Linked DNA regions of Homo sapiens: region 2 is reported to be linked to region 1. Evidence: microRNA targets listed by miRTarBase, many of them from high-throughput screens and not tested one by one. Region 1 holds a microRNA gene; the other region holds the end of a gene's coding sequence. Distances are between the middles of the regions.

What was found. Region 1 holds the annotated microRNA hsa-miR-4735-5p (CCUAAUUUGAACACCUUCGGUA, at 2,477-2,498, opposite strand). A microRNA usually pairs through its seed, bases 2 to 8, with sites in the 3' UTR of a target mRNA and lowers its output. Matches are read on the target gene's strand: a 7mer-m8 pairs with bases 2 to 8, a 7mer-A1 pairs with bases 2 to 7 and ends in A, and an 8mer does both.
Region 2: miRTarBase lists NSL1 as a target of hsa-miR-4735-5p. Seed matches in the 3' UTR shown: 7mer-m8 at 3,929-3,935, 8mer at 1,691-1,698 and 7mer-m8 at 204-210.

Annotation. Positions count from the first base shown.
Region 1 is chr1:196,579,977-196,587,244 of GRCh38, forward strand. It overlaps MIR4735 (microRNA 4735), which reads right to left and starts at 2,505; the gene lies at 2,437-2,505. The region is part of intron 1 of KCNT2 (potassium sodium-activated channel subfamily T member 2); the gene reads right to left.
Region 2 is chr1:212,732,273-212,739,272 of GRCh38, forward strand. NSL1 (NSL1 component of MIS12 kinetochore complex) reads right to left here. Exons shown (of 6, transcript NM_015471.4): 6 at 1-6,414. The coding sequence ends at 6,136. Among named protein-coding and RNA genes, the nearest start is that of BATF3, 36 kb to the left of the region's middle. RefSeq lists a silencer at 5,501-5,701.

The DNA of each region.
Region 1 (7,268 bases):
GACAGAAAATAATTTTCCAACCTAGAAATGTTTCCATTCATGTGGAAAGGTAGAATAAAAAGATTTTCAGACATGCACAAGCTCAAAACTTTTCCTCCTGAAACCATTTCTAGGGAAGCTTCTGGAAAATGTGCTTCACCAATACAAAAGAATAAACAAATCCAGCAAATAGGACACTCAAGTAAAGAAAGTGAAGAGCATTCCTAAGATAATGGATTTATTATGAATGGAAGTCCCAGCTCCAGAAATACTAAATGGAAGAAATAATAGAATGGAAGCCCCAGCTCAACAGAGAAAAAAGTGATAAACAATCCCACAGAAATGTGGGTACAGAATGAAGCTTGAAGATGGTTCAGTGGGAGGGGAGGGAGTTCCTGAGTAACTCCACAGAAGAGAACCACGGAGGATCTGAGAGTGTTTCTTTCCACAGCATAACCTGGACCTTCCCCACAGGTACACTGTCTGATGTGTTTGATTACCCTGAGAAAGGCTTTATAGTTCTACCACAGTGCTTGGTGAAACACTATCAATAGGTAACTAGAAAACTTAGCAGACAACAAAATGAAAATGTGTATATACTTAGAAACAAAGACAGTTGAATAAGAAAATGATAATCATAATACTCATTACTCAGTTCTGAGCAAAACTGAAATAGTCATATAATATGCATACATGGTATTGCTCTAAACAAAAATAATTACTGTATTGGAAGAATGGGGAGTGAGATGTGTGTTGTGATGGTATAGTTAGACTGCTAAATCCTTATATTTCATAGTAGGAAGTCAATGAATACTCCCTCAAATTGAGAAACTGTGAAACTGACTATAGAGAATAAAAGCAGGGAAAAACACTCAAAAGGCTTCAAAGTGTTTCTTTCTGAAAAGTACATCATGGAAAAGCTGACAAGGTGAAGGCAGGGGCCAGATGGTTTTTGTTATTGTTGTTTTACTTGTTCTTGTTTTCTTGTAAGCCTTCTAATAATAGCTGATTTTTGAGCTATGTACAATCATTATTTTGGCAAGAACATTTTTTAAAGAACAGGTAATTTCTTCTCAAGAAATCATCTTGACTATAGCTGCTACAGCTATTTACAAAACGTACAGTTTTTTTTTCAGAAAATTAAACATTGAAATATTAGTATATATGTGATATAGTCATTCTTTTAGCATTTTTACCTTTCTGTACCACATAGGCTTAGAATAAGATCACATAAATGCTAATCTGTGGCAAGAAAATATGGGTCAGATTGTAGTGTTTCGCTTTTTTTATTGTCATAGAAAAATTATTCTTACATGATACTTGAGGAGTAGGAAATATTTATTCTTAGAAGTTAATTTTGTAACCTCCAAATTCCATATGCCTATAAATATCTAGATCTGGACCAGTTTAGTAAAAAAAGTTCTATTTTTATATATGTGAAATACACATGTATATTCCAAACTAAGCAAAAATAAAACATTAAATTTAATAAAGGGTTTTACTTGCTCTTTACTGAAAATGAATGCCACCGGGTGAATATTGCCCCATTTTTTTCTGTCCCTTATTCCCTGAGGCTATTCCAAAATTTCAATATAATGAAGTTAACACAATACAAAGTCCTCTCAGTGGCCGACTCACTCTAGAGACATTCCACAAGTATCCTAAGGAGATGGGGGAAAGATGGAGGGGAAACTGTTATTAGTAAGAACATATTTTCTTTCATTTATTTATAAAAACTTTCCAAAAAGAGAAAGAAATCCCACTCAAGCATAAATTAACTTCAGTTCATTTTAAAAGTATTTACTAAAAGCTGTCATAAAAATATATCAAATTCACTTTCTTCCATTACTTATGTTTTGAAAACTAAGTCTTTCATTTTGTTGTTCTCCTATTTAAATTATAGTAGATGTGTACAACATGAATAGACAGATGACAGCTGGATAATAGGCATCACAAATGCCTCTATGTTCACATTTCAGGAAAATTATGTCTTTCATAAGAAAATTCTGTGGGAGAACCAATAATACTGCCAGTTCTTCAGGTAGACTTTAAAAAGTCTTATCATATATTTCAAAACCAACATGTATGTATTTAATATTTACTTATCAACTTCTCTCCATATGCCAGTACAACGCCAACTTTTTTAGGAAAATCAACAAAGACCCTCATCTCCACCTTCCCTTCCTACATCTTAGTATCCCCTTCCAGCAAGCCTAATGGCCAAGAAAAACAGGGTTCAAGTTCCTGGCTCTGCCATTTTCTAGCTTTGTAATCACCAACGGATTACTTAACTTCTCTATGCCTGTTTCTTCAGCTGTACAATGGGGATAATATTATGCTTTCTCGTTGGGCATGTAAAGTACTTGGAAGAATGCTAGTAAAAAGTAATGTTATATGCATGTTCTCTTAAGGAGCTAAAGATCCATGAATAGATTTCAACTTGACATGCGCAAAAAATGCAATGTCTAATTTGAGCACCTTTGGTATTTTTGATGAATACCGAAGGTGTTCAAATTAGGCACTGCAATTTTATGCAAGCAGGGAAGATAAACTTGCAGAAGTGGAGCTGAGATTTTTAGAAGTTTGGAAGGGTTGGTTAGAATGATAGAGGGCAAGTTTTGTAGCTGCCTTATAAGGTCAAGTTCCCAATTTCTTCAGTCCTGGCCACTACCTTAGTGCCTCCACAAACACCCAAGATACAGCAGCATTGACAGCATTGACTAGGCTTGGTTCAAACACTGAGTCCTTTGAATTATTCTCTCACCACCAATTCATTTACATTTCAGTGATGCATCAGGCAAGGATACAGATGAACCATGTCACCTGCTTCAGCTTGTCCAAACTAAATAAAGTAGAACAAATAGAGTACAATAAAGGTTTGAAAAGCATAAAATACAGAAGATAATACAGATTGCATAGGATTATAAAATATAATTATACAGGATTATAAAATATAATTATACAGGATTATAAAATACAGAGATTTGCATAGCGAAAAAGCCTTCCTAAAATGCTGAGATAAAGATTATGTAAGTGATAACTGGTCAAAAAATAGGTGAATATCATGTGACATGTAGAGGTGGAGTGGGATGTCTTCAGAGGTTGTTATTCATTCCAGAGAGAGGAATTGTCCAATGGCAGCCAGAAGGAAGACCTGAGGCAGAAAAATTAAAACACCTCTCAAGAGTTCAGATGAGAAAGGCAGGCACATTAATTAGAAGCGTAATAATTAAAATGGACTCATGAGGACAACAATTTGAGCCATCTATGAATTGAATCAATGAGATCTGTAGTGAACCAAGCTTTAAAAAGAATTTAATAATCCAGCCTTGGGTGGCTGGTTGCATGTTGGTACCATATTTAAACACAAAAAATACCAGAGGGTAAATAGTTTCAAAGAGATGACAAAATTAATTTTGGACACTGTGGATTGAAATGTCTGCTGAACATGAAAAGACACCCAGTGGAAAGCAGTCTATATAGTTTTAGAGCTCTGCACAGAGAAGTAAGACAAATATCATGATTTGGAAATCATCAACATATAATTACATTTATTGAAGTTTAAACAAAGCAAACTAGAAATGAAAAGAGCAAAGAACCAAGGAAGAATCCTTGATAAAACATAATTTTTAGTGCTAAATAAAAGAAGGGAAGACTGTAAAGGAGAACTAGGATAAGATGAGTAGGACATAAAACAAAGAAGAATGATATCATAGAAATCAAGAGAAGGAAGTTTCAAGAAAGAGGAGGAGAATCAGAAAAAAAAAATTGTTCATTGGACCTGGCATGAAAAAGATCATCAGAAATTTTAAGAGAAACGTAAGTAGAGCCATAGGGCAGAAGAAAGAATGCACAAGATAGAAGAGTAAATAAGAGCCAGGAAAGAAAAGTTCAGGTTAAAAATGGGTGGAAAGCATGGAAATATATAGGGTACTGAAGGTCTTGATGATATGTAAAAATGAATCAGTTTGGTGTTAGTAAGGAAGTGTGAACACTGAAAGGACAAGTTAGAGTTACATGGTGGGATGTTGCCACGTAAGTTTCCAGAAGTAGAGCAATCTTGGTCATACTCAGGTCCAGCCTAACAAGAGGGTGCCAGGCAGAATTGGATATAAAAGTCACCAAACTAAAGGAACTATAAAGGCAGGGTCTGGAACAGGGTATTACCTGGGCAAAGAATGCGAAAACAATGATACTAGCATCTGGAATTAAGATAAAATAAAATAAAATAAAATAAAAAGAATAGAAGCTCCCGCCCAAACCCTCCATAATTGTGGAGGAATCACCAAAGGTTGACAAAACACAGTGACAAGAAAAAAGCAAAGGCTGTAATAAATAACATACGCCTCAAATAAGGGGAAATGTAATGGTGTATAATTTGTAAGAAGAGGGGTAACACATTTCCAAACCTGTGATATATGGGGAGCAGTATGAAAATGAGCAGCTTTTATTAAAAAGATTCTAATGTTACAGTTTGTTTCCTATTCAAATTAACAAATGGATGAACTCTCCTTGAAAAAACTGAAGGTGCTGGAAAATTTATTTGTAAGGGTGCACGTATTCCAAGAGGCTTAGAAGAAAAGATTAGCAGAGAGGGGCATGCCTGGACCATTAAATCAACAGAGTATGAGGATGAGACAGAAAGAGTACAGATGAATGAACATATTTTCAGAAAAGTATATTGTCAAACATTGTAGTAACTAGAAATAATGTTGTCAAGAGAAAATTCCTGTCAACTTTTATATCAGATTTTATTTTAATAGTAAATATATAAGCTTTGCTAGAAAAAGAACCTTGGGACTCAGGAGGAAGTTAATTAGCTTGAAGATTCCAAATGGAATTTGGGTTAAATTTTACCCAAGTACAAATATGATTCATGATTTATCACCCAGTCTAATATTCAGGAGACTTTGCCCAGGGTTCCAAACAAAACATTTTGTTTGTTTGTTTGGGGGTGGGGTTTGCAAAGATGAACTCCGAATGGAGAGGGTGCTTCCAGTAGGCGTGGGTCCCATGAAAAAGAGTCAGCACACATGTGTTCTGCTCAGAACAAGGACCATTCACAGGCAGAAGAGGCTTATCATTCAGTATTTGCCAAGCATTTATTATTTTCAAGTATGAGTACAATACGATGTAGAAGAGACTTGGAGTCTAGTTGGAGAAACTGCAGATATTTAAAAAATGACAACTCAAGGGAGTAGTTATAAAAATGAAATAATAAGCGCAAAAACTGAGACTAGGAAGAAAGCTCAGTAGTGAGGAAGAGGCAAAAGGAAGATCAGAAAATTAAAAACTAGCTATAACCTTAAGATACTATGCAATCCTGTTCTGTGTCAAACACTTTACACAAATTATCTCTTCAAAGAGAGGATGGGACTTGACTTACACATCAAGTAACTGGTAGTGAGTAAATAAACTGTGAAGAGAGGAAAAGAAACGTTTCCTCTAAAGGTTTTCTACACATATATTTAATTTATATTTTGATTATTGGACCACACATATTTATCTAAACAATTAATACTAATGAATTCTCTTTGTCATTCCACTCAGTCGATAATTCAATTGCCCAAATAAATGGAATGGATGGGTCAATTTAGTGGAAATAACTGAGCTATTTATTACAGCCAAGAGGAAGCTAACTAATTAAAAAAAAACATTATAGAGATCACAAAACGAATTTGATGACTCACAAATAACAGAGCAAGAAAGAGAATGGGATTATTTTAGAGTATTTTTTTCTTGTAATCAAAAAAGAAAAGGACATTCACTCACTCATCCATTAGGTTTGTCAGTGTAATTCCTTGGACATAGTCTTAGCAATTCATAGACTGAAAATGGAATAGCTCATCTAGAAGTACAGGATTTAAAACTTTAGATACACTCATACTTTCAAGTACTTTAGTTTTTATAGCCCATCAGTTACATTTTATAGAGGCAATAAACATAAATGAAACTTTTTTTATTAAATGCACATAAATCTCAACTCTATTGAACTCTTAATTATATAATTAGCAGGCCAAGCATGATGACTCATGTCTATAATCCCAGAACTTTGGGAGGCCAAAGTGGCAGATATCTTGAGCTCCTTGAACTCAGGAGTTTGAGACCAGCCTGCGCAACATGGCAAAACCCCATCTCTATTTAAAAAAATACAAAAAATTATCCAGGCGTAGTGGCAAGTGCCTGTGGTCCCAGCTACTTGGGAGGCTGAGACAGGAGGATCACTTCAGCCCCAGTGGCACAGATTGCATTGAGCTGAGATTCTGCTGCTACACTCCAACCTGGGTAATAGAGTGAGACTCTGTTTCAAAATAAGGAAATTAATTAATTAATATGCATATAATTAGCAGATTAATCAAGCCCTTCACTTCTTTTCTTGCTGCTAAATTCCCCATTTTGTTGTTTTATTTAAAAATCTCATGGGGTTTTTAAACTCTTGATTTAAAGTTTTAAAACTATCAGTAATATTATTAAGAATTCAATCATTTTGGGGAAAATTTGTTTGACACTAGTCAATTGATAATCTAGACATCTCCTGCTGCTAGAATAATAAGAATTCTTACCTGTATTATTATTCGTTTCTGTTATCATTAATAAGAGTACCTGATTTATCATTGAGTCACTTTCTTACTCTGCTATTGGAAAACCCAATATCAAACCACATTTTCTACTATGAAACATGAGTTTTCAGGAAGACAAGTAGAAAGAAATAGTCAGAGGCAAATAATTTAGAGGCTACTAACATTAAAATCAAGAGGATTAAAAAAAACAACAACAACAACTGTAAGTAGTACAATTTACAATCTCTTCCACCATATCTTACCATTACAAACTATATATTCTTCGTGTTCCTCCCCTGAGCTCTTATTTTATTGATAAAATGTGTCCACATTGAATAATAATCACAATATTTAATAAGTGCTAATAGGAGAACAGAACTCTTGCTTTCCACAAGTATGAGAGAAAAAATATTTGACGTGAAGCTTGACTCTCTAAAACTCAATTAGCATAATATCATTCAAATGGACTGAGTTTATGAAACATGAAGAGCAATAAACTTCTGCTGTGATGATTCTACTTTCCTCAAAGCAACTTACTGAAATATAGAAAATATTCGAATCATGGAAAAAATTTGAATAAAATTTTAACAAGAACTGACACTTTATACACTTAATGTGTTTTCAAAAATATTTTTTCCAAATCCTAAAAAATCGAATAACAACATATTGATGACTTCTAAAGACTAAGAAGGTATCATTTAGCAGTAATTATTACCTAGCACTGAGCTA
Region 2 (7,000 bases), 16 Mb from region 1:
TTATTTTTTTCTGAAAATATCTCTTTTGGAGTCCTACATAGTCCTTTTTTTTTTTTTGAGATGAAGTTTCGTTCTTGTTGCCCAGGCTGGAGTGCGATGGCGTGATCTTGGCTCACTGCAACCTCTGCCTCCTGGGTTCAAGCGATTCTCCAGCCTCAGCCTCCTGAGTAGCTGGGATTACAGGCATGCGCCACCACGCCCAGCTAATTTTGTATTTTTAGTTGTTGGTCAGGCTGGTCTCCAATTCCCAGCCTCAGGTGATCTGCCTGTCTCGGCCTCCCAAGGTGCTGGGATTACAGGTGTGAGCCACCGCACCCGGCCTACATAGTCTTATTCCAACCTGGTCTGCCTAGTCTCCAAATCTGCTGATTAGTTAGTAGCCTGTAGACTCGAGTGTGCTGTGTTTTGGGAGCCTTAGTTTCCCAGATCCCATGGCTGCTGCTTTTTTGGTTTACCCTTTGGAATAGAGCACAGCCCCTGGTAGAACCCCCAAACGGGATGCCTTGGAGGTAATTTTTTTTGACGCTTTGCATATCTGAGATATCTTTTAGCTAATCATGCACTTGATTATTAGTTTGACTGTGTATAAAAGCCTAGGTTGTATATCATTTATGCTGAGAATATTTCTCCAGATGCTTCTAGATTTTAGGATTGTTGTTTAGTAATCTGATGCCATTCCAATTCCTCTTGGTATTCCTCAGGTCTGGGAATGTTTCTTGTGTTATTTCTATTTCTTTATTCTCTTTTTAAATTGAGATATACTTTACCATCTCACTCACCCTTTTAAACTGTATTGTTCAATGGTTTTCAGTATATTCAACAAGCAGTCGTGAATCACCATAATCAAATTTAGAGGGTTTTCATCACCCTCAAAAGACATCCCAGGCCAGGCGCAGTGGCTCACGCCTGTAATCCAGCACTTTGGGAGGCAGAGGTGGGCGGATCGCTTGAGCTCACGAGTTTGAGACCAGCCACATAGCGAAACTCCGTCTCTACAAAAAATACAAAAATTAGCTGGGCATGATGGTGCATGCCTATAGTCCCACCTACTTGGGAGGCTAAGGTGGGAGGATGGCTTGAGTTGCGGGGGCAGAGGTTGCAGTAAGCCAAGATAGCACCACTGTACTCCAGCTTGGGCAACACAGCAAGACCTTGTTTCACAAAAAAAAAAAAAAAAAAATCCCATACCCATTAGCAGTCACTTCCTATTCCTTCCACCCTCTCCATCTTTCCAGCCTTAGGCAGTGACAGATCTATTTTTTGTTTCTGTAGATTTGCCTGTTCTGGACAGTTCATTTACATGGAGTCTACAAAATTCAGCAGTCTTTTGTGAGAGGCTTCTTTCACTTGGCATGTTTTAAGGTTCATCTACACTGTGGCATTTACCAGTACCTCATTTCTTCTTATTGCCAAATAATATTCTATTGAGTGGATAGTCCACATTTTATTTATCCATTCATCAGTTCATGAAAGTTCAACCTGCTGCTACAAACATTTGTGTGTAAGTTATTGTGTGAGCATGTTTTCAATTCTCTTAGGTTTAGAACGTGGAGTAAAATTGCTGGGCCATATGGTAACTGCATTATCTCTTTGATAATTTTGACTCTGCTGCTTTTTCTGCATGCTATCTCTGGAATGGGTATCGATTAGACTTTGAACTTTATGAACTTATTCTCTTTATTCTTACTTTTCTAATTTGCCATTTCTTAATCTTTCTGTTTTATTTTTGGGAAAATTTCATTTTATCTCCCAGCCCTCCCACTGAATTTTTATTTCAACTTTCATATTTTTAATTTTCAAAAACTTTTTCTTATTTACTGAACATTATTTAATAGCATTCCGATTTTCCAAAAAATGTATGATTTTCTCTTCTTTCTGGGAGTACAGTCATCATTCTGGGATTTTGCTTTGTATGTATCTGTTTTCTTTGAGGTCCTTTATTCTCTTTGGTTTTTGTTTTAATTCACTCAGTTAACCACTATGCATCGAGGGCCCATCATGTGCCAGCAATTATTCCAGGTGGATGGAACAAAGATTCCTGCCATTAAGGGACTTACAGTTTTTGGGTCTGTCTTTGATGCTGGAGACGCTCCTCAAATATTTGGTGAATCAGTTTTGTGCATTTTTAAAATATAAAACTTAAATAAAGTGCAGAAATTTTAAGTGTATAGTTCAACAAAATTTTACATACATATACAGCCATGTGAGCACCACTCAGATCAAGATACAGAACATTTTGCTCACCCAAAAATGTTTCCCGTGCCATTCCCAGTTAATATCTCCCCTCTCCCCAGAGGGAACCACCATGGCTTAGTTTTGCCCATTCTGTGATTCCATACACAGGATGTATTCTCTTGTGCCTGGCTTTGCTTCTTTTATTCAATATAGTATCTTTGATATTGATCCACATTGTTATAACAGTAATTTGTTCTTTATTCCTGTATTCCTTCCCTGATTATTTGCCTAAAACATTCAAGACTGCTCAAATGCCACCTCTTCTACAAAGACTTCCATGACTACTCCCCTAAGTTCCACACATACATCTATCATACCATTTGCTGCATGGCATTATCATTGTTTGCACACTCATCCTCTTCACTGGAATATGACCTTCCTGAAGGCAACACTTGTCCTGAGTGTTTTCATTTCCTTTATCAAAAGAAGTAATAACAGTGATCATAGAGTACTCATATGCACCAGTTATTAGTCTAAGGCCTTCACATTATGAACTCATTTACTTCTCAGAATAACGCTATGAGGTAGGCATAATTATTATCCCCATTTTGCACATGAGAAAACTGCAGCATAGACAGGTTATGTAACTTGCCCAATGTCACTGAACTAATAATGGTAGAACTGCAATCTGAACCCAGATGATCTGGCTCAGAGACTATGCTCTTTAAGATCTCTGACTTTTGATCATAGACAGGTTAAGTAACTTGTCCAATATCATTGAACTAATAATGGTAGAACTGAAATCTGAACTCAGATGATCTGGCTTAGAGGCTGTGCTCTTAAGATCTCTGACTTTTGATCCGAGTAGGTGTCCAACTGTATGTGTTGAACAGATGAATAAATGAATGAAGGTGGATAGAGAAGATAGGTGTTCACCAGAAATCAAACAAATTCAGCCTTAGAAAAGAAAAAGTACATCTTACAAGATGAAATCATACTGTTTGAAGCAATAAAAAATTTGGTTTTATTCACTTTGTCCTCTACGGAGCCCAAGCCATAAAGGGCCAGGGAAAGAGGTCTAGGATAAGATTTTCTGTGGGCTTGTGTTATGGACTCAATGTTTGTGTCCCCCTAAAATCTGTATGATGAAGCCTTAACTCCCATGTGCCTATAGCTGTATTTGGAGATGGGGCCTCTAAGGAAATAATTAAGGTTAAATGAGGCCATAAGGGTGGGGCTCTGATCTGATACAATTGGTGTCCTTATAAGAAGAGACACCAGAGAGCTTGCACTCTGTCCCTCTCTCCACATGCATGCACTGAGGAAAGGCCATGTGAGGACATAGTAAGGAGGTGGTCATCTACAAGTCGGGAAGACAGCCCTCACCAGAAACTGCATTTGCCAGCACCTTCTCATGGACTTCTAGCCTCCAGAACTGTGAGAAGTAAGTATCTGTTGTTTAAGCCACCCAGCCTGTGGTATTCTGTTATAGTAGCCTAAATAAACAAATGTAGATTTTGGTACCAGTTTTCAGAAACCAGCTTTGACAGTGTTCTCTCTTCTTTGGGACTAGACTTAACCTTCTTGTGTTCTTCTTATTATTATTTTGAAACAGGGTCTCACTCTGTCACCCAGGCTGGAGTACAGTGGTGCCATCCTGGCTCACTGCAACTTCTGCCTCCAGGGCTCAAGTGATCCTCTCATTTCAGCCTCCTGGGTGGCTGGGACTACAGGTGTGTGCCATCACACCCTGCTAATTTTTGTATTTTTTGTAGAAATGGAGTTTCACTATGTTGCCCAGGCTGGGCTCAAGTAATCTGTCCACTTCAGCCTCCCAAAGTGCTGGGATTACAGGCATGAGCCCACCGCGCCTGGCTATTTCTTTTCTGAAAGATAATTTTAAGACCCTATTCAATCCAGACTCTTTTTATCATAGAGCAAGATTTGATTTTCAATTTTTTCCTTCAACCTTTCCAATTCCTTAAAACTACAGACTTTCTTGCTTTTAATCCTTAGCTTACTAGTTCTTGGCCTATGCAGAAATGCAACTTCTCCTCTTACACAGTATACTTATTCAATATTATTACTGCTATTGGTCATGCTTTTCTTAGTTAATAATGCTAATACGTACTGTCTTTCCCAGTGGTATTTCTATTTTAAACTCTGCTATAACTATGGAGTAAAACTTTGGGCTCTCAAGAGGATTTCAAATCTCAGCTGTCTGCCTGGGGACTTTAAAATATAACCATTTTTTAAAAACTTATAAAAATTTCCAACACAAAGTAGAATATAGTCATTACACAGATTCAACATTAACAGGATTTTTGTCACATTTCCTTAATCGATTCCTTGTTTCTCTGCTGAATACTTCAGAGCAAATCTATCATGTCATTTAAAAACTCTATGTAGCACAATATACCTCTCTTAAAAGGGAGGGACCATGTTCTTATATAATCAAAATGCAAGTAGCTTATATAATCTAATAGAATTAACAATAACTCTTTTGTTTGGGGACCTCTGAAGTGAAACAAATCATACAGAATTTTAATACTATAAAAACATTAGCACTGTAAAAACAGCAACATATTATACAGCCTCAAAACAGTTTTAAACTGAAGTCTAGTATGTTCAGAAACGCAGGGTGCTGACCCACCATCCAACTGAAGCTGAGCTCAGGAATGCCTAAGACAACTCATAAAAATACACAGCATCAAGATCAGTCTTTGTACATTATTTCAATGAAAAACACATAGCTGTGTACAAATATACAGATCTCAAACTGTAACACTGAAACACAAAATGCAACAAAGTGGCTTTATAAGTTTTCTTCACTGAGACAGACCTTCTGGTGACTTCTGGTGAATCTAGACATTTATGATTATTAATACATAATAAGCAAGAGAAATACAGATTTTCCAACCTCATGATCAGTAAATTCCTTTGAAAAATGAATGAAGGTATCAGAGTCATCAAAAGGGGAAACAGTTGGTAAGTTTGATGGCCCTGCCTACACTGTATAATGTAAGACACACAATAAGAGCTATAAGAAACTATAGTTAAATGTTAGAAGTAAAGCCAATATCGTTTTCTCAGACTTCTCCCAGTGATTATATACCTGATATATAAACATCTTCAAATGTGAAATAGTTCAATAACACAATGACACTTTGCCAGTGTATTAATCTGATATATATTTTGAACTGGAATGATTTGTAAAGAAATAAATAAGAAACCCTAAAAAGAAACCATTAGTTCCAAGTCAAATTATGTTAATGGTCTATAGAAAAAAGTGAGTGTGGGCAGGAAACATTGGCTACATGCCAATTTTTATTTCAAAGAGTAATGTTGCACAAATAATAGTTATCATTGTCTTACACAACAAAAAATCCTAAAGTTAATCTCACAAACCTAAATTAGCTGAACATGGAGTAACAAAGTCAAAGCCAGTATTATCATCAGCACATTAATTTGATAAATCAAACTACATCTTTAAAAAAAAACCCTGCATCTGCTGCTGTGCAGAACTGATAATTACTTTTCAGCATGTAAACGAAAAATCATTATACAGCTCTCTCTCTTTTTTTTTTTTTTCCTAGAAAGATGTATACCAGGGAAACACAACAGAATTTGTTACTTGTTAAATCCCACAAAAGCTACAAGGGAGCTGAGAGTTGATGGCACTTAAGGACAGTAAAAGTCTGCACTTTTAATATTTTTAATGCCCACTGATGGGCTTTGTGTCAATACTTTTTAAAATGCTTTTTATTTACAATAGATAAAACAGTAAGGAAATACAATATTATATCATATCCCCGCACAGAGATACTATATCTGTATAAATGAATCACTAGTAAAAGAGTTATTTCTTATTTCAAATGAAGTCTTATCTAGGTATTAATTAGGCTGTAATCTAAATGTTGATGGTGCCTATTTTCAACTCCCAAAATAAACAGAAAGAGCTCATGTATCAAGATTAATTTTCTTTGGCCGCAATGGATACCATTTTCTCTGGGGGCAGTCTTTAGTTTGCTTTCTTTTCAGTACCATGTCAGAGGTTTTCCTGGAAGCAGTCTCTGTTGGTGTGGTTTCTATCTGTGTTATAAAGTTCTCAGGTTTAGCATCTGGTTTCCTATGACAACTGGAAAAGACTTCTTGGTGAATCCTCTGGAGGTGGATAACAGGCTGCATCCTGAGAACTTGGGAAAATCCCTCTCCTTGTTCAATTAATGCAGGCAAGGACTTCAAACAAACAAACAGTAATATTCAACATTAATCTCAGGTTGAAACACAAACAGACAAAGATGGATGCAGTACTCTAATTTTTTTTTTTTTTCTTGAGAAGTCTTGCTTTGTTGCCCAGGCTGGAGGGCAGTGGTGTGATCTCAGCTCACTGCAATCTCCACCTCCTGGGTTCAAGCAATTCACCTGCCTCAGCCTCCCGAGTAGTTGGGACTACAGGCGCGCACCACCACACTTGGCTAATTTTTGTATTTTTAGTAGACGTGGACTTTCACCATGTTGGCCAGGCTGGTCTTGAACTCCTGACCTCAGGTGATCTGACTGCCTTGGCCTCCCAAAGTGCTTGGATTACAGGTGTAAGCCACTGTGCCCTTGCTGATCCAGGCTTTAAATGCTGGATTGTAGGTTACTTATGTGCGCAACCTGCTTAGCCTCTCTGTGCCTCAGCTTCCTCATCTACAAAAGAAATAACAGTATCTGTCTCATAGGATGTAAGGATTACATGAGACAATACATGTAAAGCAGTTGGATGGTGCCCATACCAATTATTCAATACATTTTAGCTGGTATTATTATCCAAAACTGT